Linked DNA regions of Homo sapiens. The protein of the gene in region 1 purifies or fractionates together with the protein of each later gene. This does not show direct contact. Each region holds a gene or a part of one and is shown on either strand. Other genes may lie near its edges.

Region 1 (4,511 bases):
AAAATAAGACTCCCCTAAAGCTAGGAGTTCATCCACTGGCAACACCCTTTCTTTAACAAATGAGTTGCAAGTTATCGCTAGTACTCCCATTTAGACTCAAGTTGAAGGGCATTACAAAAACAATTTTATTTTTCTGCACTTTGTCATTTGATTATAACTGTCTCATCCTAATTTTATAATAGGCCAACTTTAAGCGATTCATGTTCAAAACCTTCTTACAGAAATAATCTATTGATCTCAAGAATTCAACTACTCAACCTGGCAGAAAGTATTCCAAATTATCAAAAGAAACCATGAAAATATGAAGCTTCAGTGTTCATAACGTTAGATCAAAAAACTAAAACCAAGCAAAACTATTTAGAAATCTCAGCTCCCTATTTCCTATCAAAATGTTAAAGAACTTTAGATATCTTCTTTAAACGTACTAAAGATACAAAAGTAAATTCCTTTTGACTTCAGAGGGCTGAAATGAAGAATTCAGTAACTGCGGGCAAAAATTATGGAGGGGAAAGAATTACTTGAGAAAATATTTCGTGAGACAAATACCTTTTTTTAAAAAAAAAGATGTATTAAAATCACTTACTCCCTTCTACCAGACAAACAATCCTCTCCTAGAACTCACTGCTTACAATTCAGCCAAGTATGACTGCCAAGAGTTTCTAAACCTGTGTTAGGATTTTTAAAAGTGGAAAGCTTCTCCACCAGTGTATTACAACAAAAAGTATATTTTTTAGAGTTAAAGATCAACTATTAAATACACTCCTACTGATAAACTAAATGTAAGTGATTAAAAAAAACCCAAAACTCAACTTGTAACTTAGCACAAAGTTTGCTATATAAATTGCTTGCAGTTCTAAGAGTAGGTATTTATTTGGTCCCCCAAATTGGGGCTTAAGTGGCTGAAAGAAAAAAGTTTTATAAACAGCTTTTCTAACCTTAGTTTACATTTGGTAAAACAGACCATTTATCACAATCAAGTGAACATAATGCCAAATGTTAAGATTCCAAATTTTACAGGTAAAATTTGTAAAAATTACAATAACCCAGTAATGGACTGCCACATGAGACTGTCACTGATTTTAAACATTTTTACATATATCTTAAGAATACAATGTCATGTAAGTCATGTTTAAACTTGGGATGTATGTATTTGAACTATGTAATCTTGGTTGCTTTTCTGGTAATTCTTTATCTCACAGTGGTCTGATTATAGCCAGGGCTGCTTCTTCCCATTTTACCATTAGTCAGTACATCTTAATTTTGCTTTCACCAAAACATGGACATCATAAGCCACCTCTTGCTTCCAGTTTTCTGCTTTTTACTGTAGATAACAATGACAGTGAGTTCCACCAAATGCATGTATGTGCACAGCTTTGTCATTCTTTTCCCAGCCCCCTTCTTTTCTATGAGAAAAATACGAGGAACTTAGGTTTATATAAAAATGTCGATTTTTCTTTTGCATACATAACTAATGGATTTTCAAGACAAGACAATTTATTCTGATAACTATCATCCTAGAAATGTCAAGAGAACTTCCCAAATCCAAAAATAAGAAGAAAATCTGATATTAACTGGAGAGGAAATTTCCACTCAAATCATAAATAAAATGTCATCAATTAAGCTGAACATCAATAAAACTCAGTCAAAAATCAAGCCTCAATACAGAACCCACACATAACCCACATGTAATCAAAATATCACTTATATTTGCTAGCGGAGTTCACAGATGAATTCTGTATGTGCGCCAGATTTATCTTATTTTGTAATGCTGGGGTTAATATTTATTGGTATAAATCAGGGCCCACACTAAGTGTCCTGGGGAGAGGCAATCCAAAGAACGCTTAGTAGCATGATAAAACCGGTCCAAAACGAAAAAAAAGAAAAAAAGCCAAGTCCTAACACAACAGAGCGAATAAGCGACAAATAGATCACAGAAAGCAAAACGAAAACGGTCCTCTCCGGAGTAGCCTGAATAAAAGATCTTCACTCATAACGTTTAATAGTATCCTACCTCACTTCATTCACTTCCCAACTTCCTTTTACTTTTCAAGGGCCACCACGGGGCTTCCCTTTTTCTGGAAGTGTATATTGAAAGGATCTGTACAGGAAAGAGGGAAGGAACGGACAATTCTCAAGAAGGCTGAGAAACAGGTGGGTTAGCAGGAGGAGCATAATCTAGATACTTAAGGGGCAGCTTTAAGATGACAGATGTGGTGGAAGGAAAGACTGCAAATCGGAAGCAGCTCTAGTGTGGCAGATACACTGTGGGCTGATTGCAAGCACCAGAGGGGGGCAAAGGCTAACTCCAGAGTGGTAGCAGTGGAGCAAAAAAACAAGCAGCAGGACGAGTGGGCAATGAGCAGTGGGATTAATGAGCAGCAGCAGCCAACACGGATCAGAGTGGAAGTGATGGCTTTGGTCTTGGGAGACGGGGGCCAGAGGGAAAGGACGTCAGACAGGGAACAGGGGATTGGGGAAACAAGGAGGGCTGAGACCTAAGAATCCTGCCCCGGTGAAAATGCAGGGGGAAAAGCTGGAGACCAAAAGCCGCCTCGGCTCCCCAATTAAAGAAATTCTCGAAGGAGAGTCGCTGCTTGCCGCCGCGCTGCCTTCTGACCCGCTCCCTTTTCCTTATGGTAACTGCTGTGGCGTAAAGGGGAGAGGGAGGAAGAGGAGGAGGAGGAAGAAGACCAAGGAGGAGGAGGGTGAAGATGAGGCGGGGGGTGGGGAGAAAGGGGGGTGCGGCCTGTACAGTCCCAGCGAAGCCTCCGCTCTCTCGTAGCCGGTCAGCCCCGGGTTTCCCCTAAGCCCAGCCCCGCATAGACTCACCCGCCTGCCTTGCCTCGCTTTTCCCTCAGCCGACTCCACGGGCTGCCGCGTCCTCACAAGAAACCACCGAACGAGCGTCGGGGAAAAAACTCTTCAGAACCGGGCCTGATTGCTTCAGCGAGTCCGACCTTTACGGCTGAGAGAGAGACTCTCAGCTTTCGGTGGGTTCCACAGCCAGACGGGCCACCATCTTACATTAGGGTAAGACTCCTCCGGCCTCCCGTGCGCAGGCGCACGCTGATCCGGCCAGGAGGGGCGGGGGAGGGGCGGGAGGAGCGGCGGGCGGCTGAGTGGGAGGTTGCGGTGGCCGCTCCCGCAGCACCCTGGGAGTTGAAGTCCTCGGAGGGTAACCTCCCAGGGGCACGCCGGGAGTTGAAGTCCTCTCTCAGAGGGCGGAGGGGATCGCCCACCTCACGTGGCTGCTGGACTGATGCCTTTCTTCGTGTTTTGCTTCCTTCTCTGCACGCGTGTGCTGCTTCAATGTCATTTGGTCGGCGGTTTTCACTAGTGATTCCGTGTCCTCGGTGTTTGCGGAAATGTGCTACCCCAAGACTGGGGCGAGGCTAAACAGTTTTTCGGGGAGCCCGGAATGTTTATTCTCTGCCCCGCCCACCAGGGATATCTAAAGGGGGCGGGGTGGAGGTGGAGGCAGGTTGTGGGTACGAAGAGCGCGGGATTTGATCCAGGGTGAGAATTTGATACAGACTTGGCGTCTGTTTGCGAACAAGGAGGAAACAGGCGCCTGTTTAATTCATTTCCCTGTCCTTGCGCATTTGGGGCCACCACCCTTGATCCCTTCTTCACTGTAAAATCACCAGTGAAGACATACACTAAATTGTTCTGTGCAGATTACCCAAGAGAACGGAACACCCGTGCACTTACAATAACGTGCTTCTGTTGGTGTGAATTTGAGAATTTGCGGACCTCGGTGCAAATTAGTGTTAGTTCGGTGTCCAGCCAGCACAGCTGTGTGCAAGTTTACAAACTACACACATCGGCACATCCCCAAGAACAATAAATGCAGCCACAATCCCTACGAGCACTGAGGAATCATCAGTCACAAAAGTCAGTCAATGTACTGGTCGCCCCGTTTGCATCCCAGAACTCTGGTGGAAGTGGCGCTCGAAGCAGTAACTTTTGCTTATTGCATGTATTCTTCACCCACTCATACAGCAAATACTCAATGAGCTCCTCCTAGCTGCCGGGTACTCTTCTATATATTGAGAATACAATGGTGAGCAAAATAGAAAAAATTCCCTGTCCCTATTCTAGTGATGTGTTGGGATGAGGAAGAGGAGAGAAGAGGCATTATTTTAAAAATACGTGATTAAAATGCATAGTATGTCATAACCGATTTTAAAAACTTAAAGCAGGGAAGGGGAGTAGGGAAAGAGGTTGCAGTTTTAAATTTACGAACTTAATTTCATAATAAGCCCTCAATTCATTGTTTTTTCTTTTTTTTTTTTTTTGAGACGGAGTCTAGCTCTGTCACCCAGGCTGGAGTGCAGTGGCGCGATCTCGGCTCACTGCGACCTCCGCCTGCCGGATTCAAGTGATTCTCCTGCCTCAGCCTCCCGAGTAGCTGGGATTACAGGCACGTGCCACCACGCCAGGCTAATTTTTATATTTTTAGTAGAGACAGGGTTTCACCATGTTGGTCAGCCTGGTCTCGAACTCCTGAC
Region 2 (3,806 bases), on another chromosome or scaffold:
ACTGCCGGGCACCAATTTATCTCCTCGTGGCTGATGGATATGATGCTTCCAAACACATTATCTGCATTTTCCAGATGAGGCAACAGGCTTAGAGAGGAGAGGGCACTCGCCCCAGCACGGGGTGGGACTGAATCCACTGTATCTGACTCCAGAGCTCATGCTCCTCTGCTGTCCCCTGAAGCTGCCCACCACTTCCACCCAGACAGGCCAGCCTCAGCTGGGGTCCCAGGGCTCCGCTCAGACCCCCTGAGCACCTGCCTCTGCCAGCTCTGGCATGCTCTTGCCCCACTGTGAGAGGGGGTCCCATGGAACTCTCAGAGGCGGCCAGACCCAGCCATGGTGAAGGTTAGGGCCAAAAACCCAGCTCAGGGTATCAGAAGACTGGGAGAAGGTGAGGGCCAAAAACTCCAGCGTTCCTGGGTGAGGGGGGAAGCACTGGGCGGAGGAGGCCCAGCAGCCTGGAGCTGAGCCACCATGTCACATGGAGGACTACAGACAGACTCAGGGACAGTCAGAGTCATTACACCTGGTCACACATGGCCAGGTGAGAGCCCAGGTCGCTCAGGAACTGCAGCGACAGTGACAGAGTTAGGCAGGATTCAAGCAAACGCCTCCTTTCCATGAGCCCCTCGCTGCACTGAGCACACCACTAGACAGCACGTTTAACGAGCACGACAGGGAGGGTGAAGAGATGGACTCGGGCCAGACTCCGTGGGTTCAAATCCTGCCTCTCCTGCTTAAGCACTGAGAGGCTTTAGGCAAACTACTTAGCCTCTCTGTGCCTCAGTCTCCTCACCTGCAAAGTGGAGGTGACGATACCTACTCACAGGTTTGCTCTAGGATTAAATGAGAAGTCACCCATGAAACACGTGGTGCCTGGCCTGGTAGGCTCTGCCCCACCACACCCCCTCCCCAGGCCCGGGCCCCACCCCCGAGTTCCGACTGTCAGGAGAGCTCCAGGAAAGGCACTCACCCAGTGGGGACGCGCTGGGTGCGCGCGGGGCAGGGCGCTTCTTTGTCTTGGGGCTGCTGGTAGGGGTGATGCCGTACCAGGGGTGCAGGGACTTGGGTGTGGACTCCGGGTGGCCCAGGGCAGGGCTGGTGGCCAGGCTGGGTGCAGCTGGAGCCTCTTCCTCCTTGTCCTCCTCCTCCTCCTCAAAGGGGTTATAGGGTTTGGACTCCAGGCTGGCCGTTGGGCTCGGCTGGGCCACCTCCTCGGTGCCTCCATTCTCCACCTGCCTGCTGTCCTGGCTTGGTGGCCCCGGGCTGCTGCTTGGGGGAAGTGGGGCTGGCTTCTTCTTTGGTTCTGCCTGCACCAGCGTGATCCATGGGGGGTCCTTCCTGGGGGCTGGTGTCCTGGAGGAGGGGGGAAGCAGCAGAAACCATTAGCAGAGGCAAGGGTCAGCTTCCTTCTCTCTCTAGACAGTTTTGACTCTACTTCAAAGGGGGTGGATGAGAAACGGCTGTTTCCCTTCTCCCACCCCCATCCCCATGGGGACAGTCTGAAATGGAATGTTACAGTCACAGCCTTTGAGGCCCAGAGAATGTGAACCTTCAAGTCACAGAGCTGCTGTTAACCCAGCCCAGGAAAGGATCGACCAGGGGCTCTGCCACCTACAATCCATGTACCCTGGGAAAGTCACCTGCCCTCCCTCTGTATTAGTCTCCCTTTCCACTCAATGGGGACCTTAATAATCCTTGCCTCACAGGGTTGGTGTAAGGATGCAGTGAGCTATGGAGTGCAGCACTGGGCGGGGCACTGGGGCACCTGCTCAGTGCCAGGGACTCAGTAAACGTTAACAACTGGCACAGCCATGGCCCACCTGGCTCCCTACAGACCGACCACATGGGGGAAGCATGGCCCTCAAATAACAGCTGAAGTAGATGTCCTCCACGTGAAGCAGGGTCCCGTGCTGCAGGACCTGAGGGACTGGTACTACAGCTGAGCTTTTCCAGGTCTTTCTATACTCTGCTGCTAAGCCTCAAATCAACTCTATAATCAAGCCTCGGCCTCCCATGTTACAGGGCAAAGGAGCCTGGAGAGGCAACGGGTACCAGAGGTGGCTGCCTGCACCGGGCACTGCCCACAGGAGCAGGGACCTGGGGAGGGGGCCAGGCACTGGCCGCAGGAATCCCGGGGTGAGCCTCAGGAGAAGGGGTGTGGGCCCAGCTCTCCTTCCCCTCCTGAGCCCCGCCCTGCCCATCCACAGGAAGCCTCTCTCCCTACCCGGCCCCAGAGTACCCTGATTCCCACCACCAGGACCTCCAAAGCAGGAAAGCCCCTCAGGGATCGACATACCCCTCGGACGGCTTCGGTGTCCCCCTCGGCTTGGGGACAGGCAGTTCGTGCAGTCTCCCTAGATGGGAAAGGAGAGTGAGCCAGGCCTTCATGGGCAGCAGGAGGTGGGCACCCAGGGAGCCAGCCACAGCACCTGCCTCCCCAGGAGCGCCCCGCCTTCCTCCTGGCACCCTCGCACCTCCCCAGGCCAGCCCATGGAGATTAGATAAGCACCCAGGTGCCTGAGAACAGTCAGGGGTCAAGGCCAGGCCACCTGAGACCCCGTTTGCATTTCATTTGAGAAGAAACCCAAATCCCCTCAGACACCCCCCGCCAGTGTGGGCAGAAAACATCATCTCAAGTCAGCCTGGGAGCCACCTCCTCCTGGAAGTCCTGGACTCCCAAGTGTCCTCTGTGAATCCCACAGCAGCCCCTGCTCCCCTCCTTCCAACTTAGCAAGACTTCCACAATCCACTGAAACCCTTGCATCTGTGCCTGTCTCCACCTCAACACTGGGAGCACCCTGAAGGCACAGATAGGCCTGAACAGTAATCTGTGTCCCCAGCGGTCAGCTCAGATCCAGCCTCCACAAGAGCTGAACAAATAGAATGTTCTGGTGCAAGTCGCAGGGTGACCCTGGGAGTCTCTCTCCCCGTGGCCACCAATGCCTTCCCTAATGGAATGATAAGGGCTGCCCAGCAGCCTTATACAAGGAGTCTCAATCCTACAAGCTCACGGAAACCCAGGGAGGTCATCTGGGAGCATTCTACAATGTGGGGTTGGGGGAGAATGCACCCACAGAATGGGCCAGGGGTCTCCACTGCAGCTCACACTGGCTCCGGGGCCCACCTGACCCCTCTGCTCTCCCCCAAGCCCCTGAGCTCTCCCCTTCTAGACATAGACAAGCATAGAGGCTGGGCATGGAGGTCACCTGCAGTGTGCCTGTGGATGGGCCAGGACACACAGGAAGGACACCAATGTGCAGAGTCCCAGAGAGCTCGGGGACACACGGGCACATGCAGAGTGGCACTTACTACACACCCTGAAACTAAAGCCCACAAGAACAGATGCAAAAGAGCGCATGCAGAGGGAGGCAGTGTAAGGGCGGGGCCTGGGTCTGTATTGTTTGCACCGTCCCAGCATGGAGAACAGAGCACGGCAGAGGCTGCAGGAACTCGGCATTTGGGGCAGGAATTAATATCCTCAGAAACAGGCCAGGCATGGTGGCTCAGGCCTTAATCCCAGCACTTTGTGAGGCCAAGGCGGGCAGATCACCTGAAGTCAGGAGTTCGAGACCAGCCTGGCCAACATGGTGAAAACCCATCTCTACCCAAAAATACAAAAATTAGCCAGACATAGTGGTGTGCACCTGTAGTCCCAGCTACTTGGAAGGCTGAGGCAGGAGAATCGCTTGAACCTGGAAGGCAGAGATTGCAGTGAGCCGAGATTGTGCCATTGCACTCCACCTGGATGACAGAGTGAGATTCCGTCTCAAAAAAAATAAAAAGAGCCCGGCACAGTGGCTCAT

What was found.
Region 2: the proteins of CNOT4 (region 1) and MICALL1 fractionate together in Homo sapiens (co-fractionation; one large-scale study listed by BioGRID). This does not show direct contact.

The regions. Positions count from the first base shown.
Region 1 is NC_000007.14:135,507,060-135,511,570, forward strand, and holds the start of CNOT4 (CCR4-NOT transcription complex subunit 4), read right to left. Parts: upstream 3,044-4,511; 5' UTR 2,830-3,043; intron 2,099-2,829; exon of another isoform or gene 2,012-2,098; intron 1-2,011. UniProt on the Homo sapiens protein: Has E3 ubiquitin ligase activity, promoting ubiquitination and degradation of target proteins. Involved in activation of the JAK/STAT pathway. Catalyzes ubiquitination of methylated RBM15.
Region 2 is NC_000022.11:37,923,211-37,927,016, reverse strand, and holds part of MICALL1 (MICAL-like protein 1), read right to left. Parts: intron 2,358-3,806; coding exon 2,300-2,357; intron 1,357-2,299; coding exon 974-1,356; intron 837-973; coding exon of another isoform or gene 820-836; exon of another isoform or gene 78-819; intron 62-77; coding exon of another isoform or gene 1-61. UniProt on the Homo sapiens protein: Lipid-binding protein with higher affinity for phosphatidic acid, a lipid enriched in recycling endosome membranes. On endosome membranes, acts as a downstream effector of Rab proteins recruiting cytosolic proteins to regulate membrane tubulation.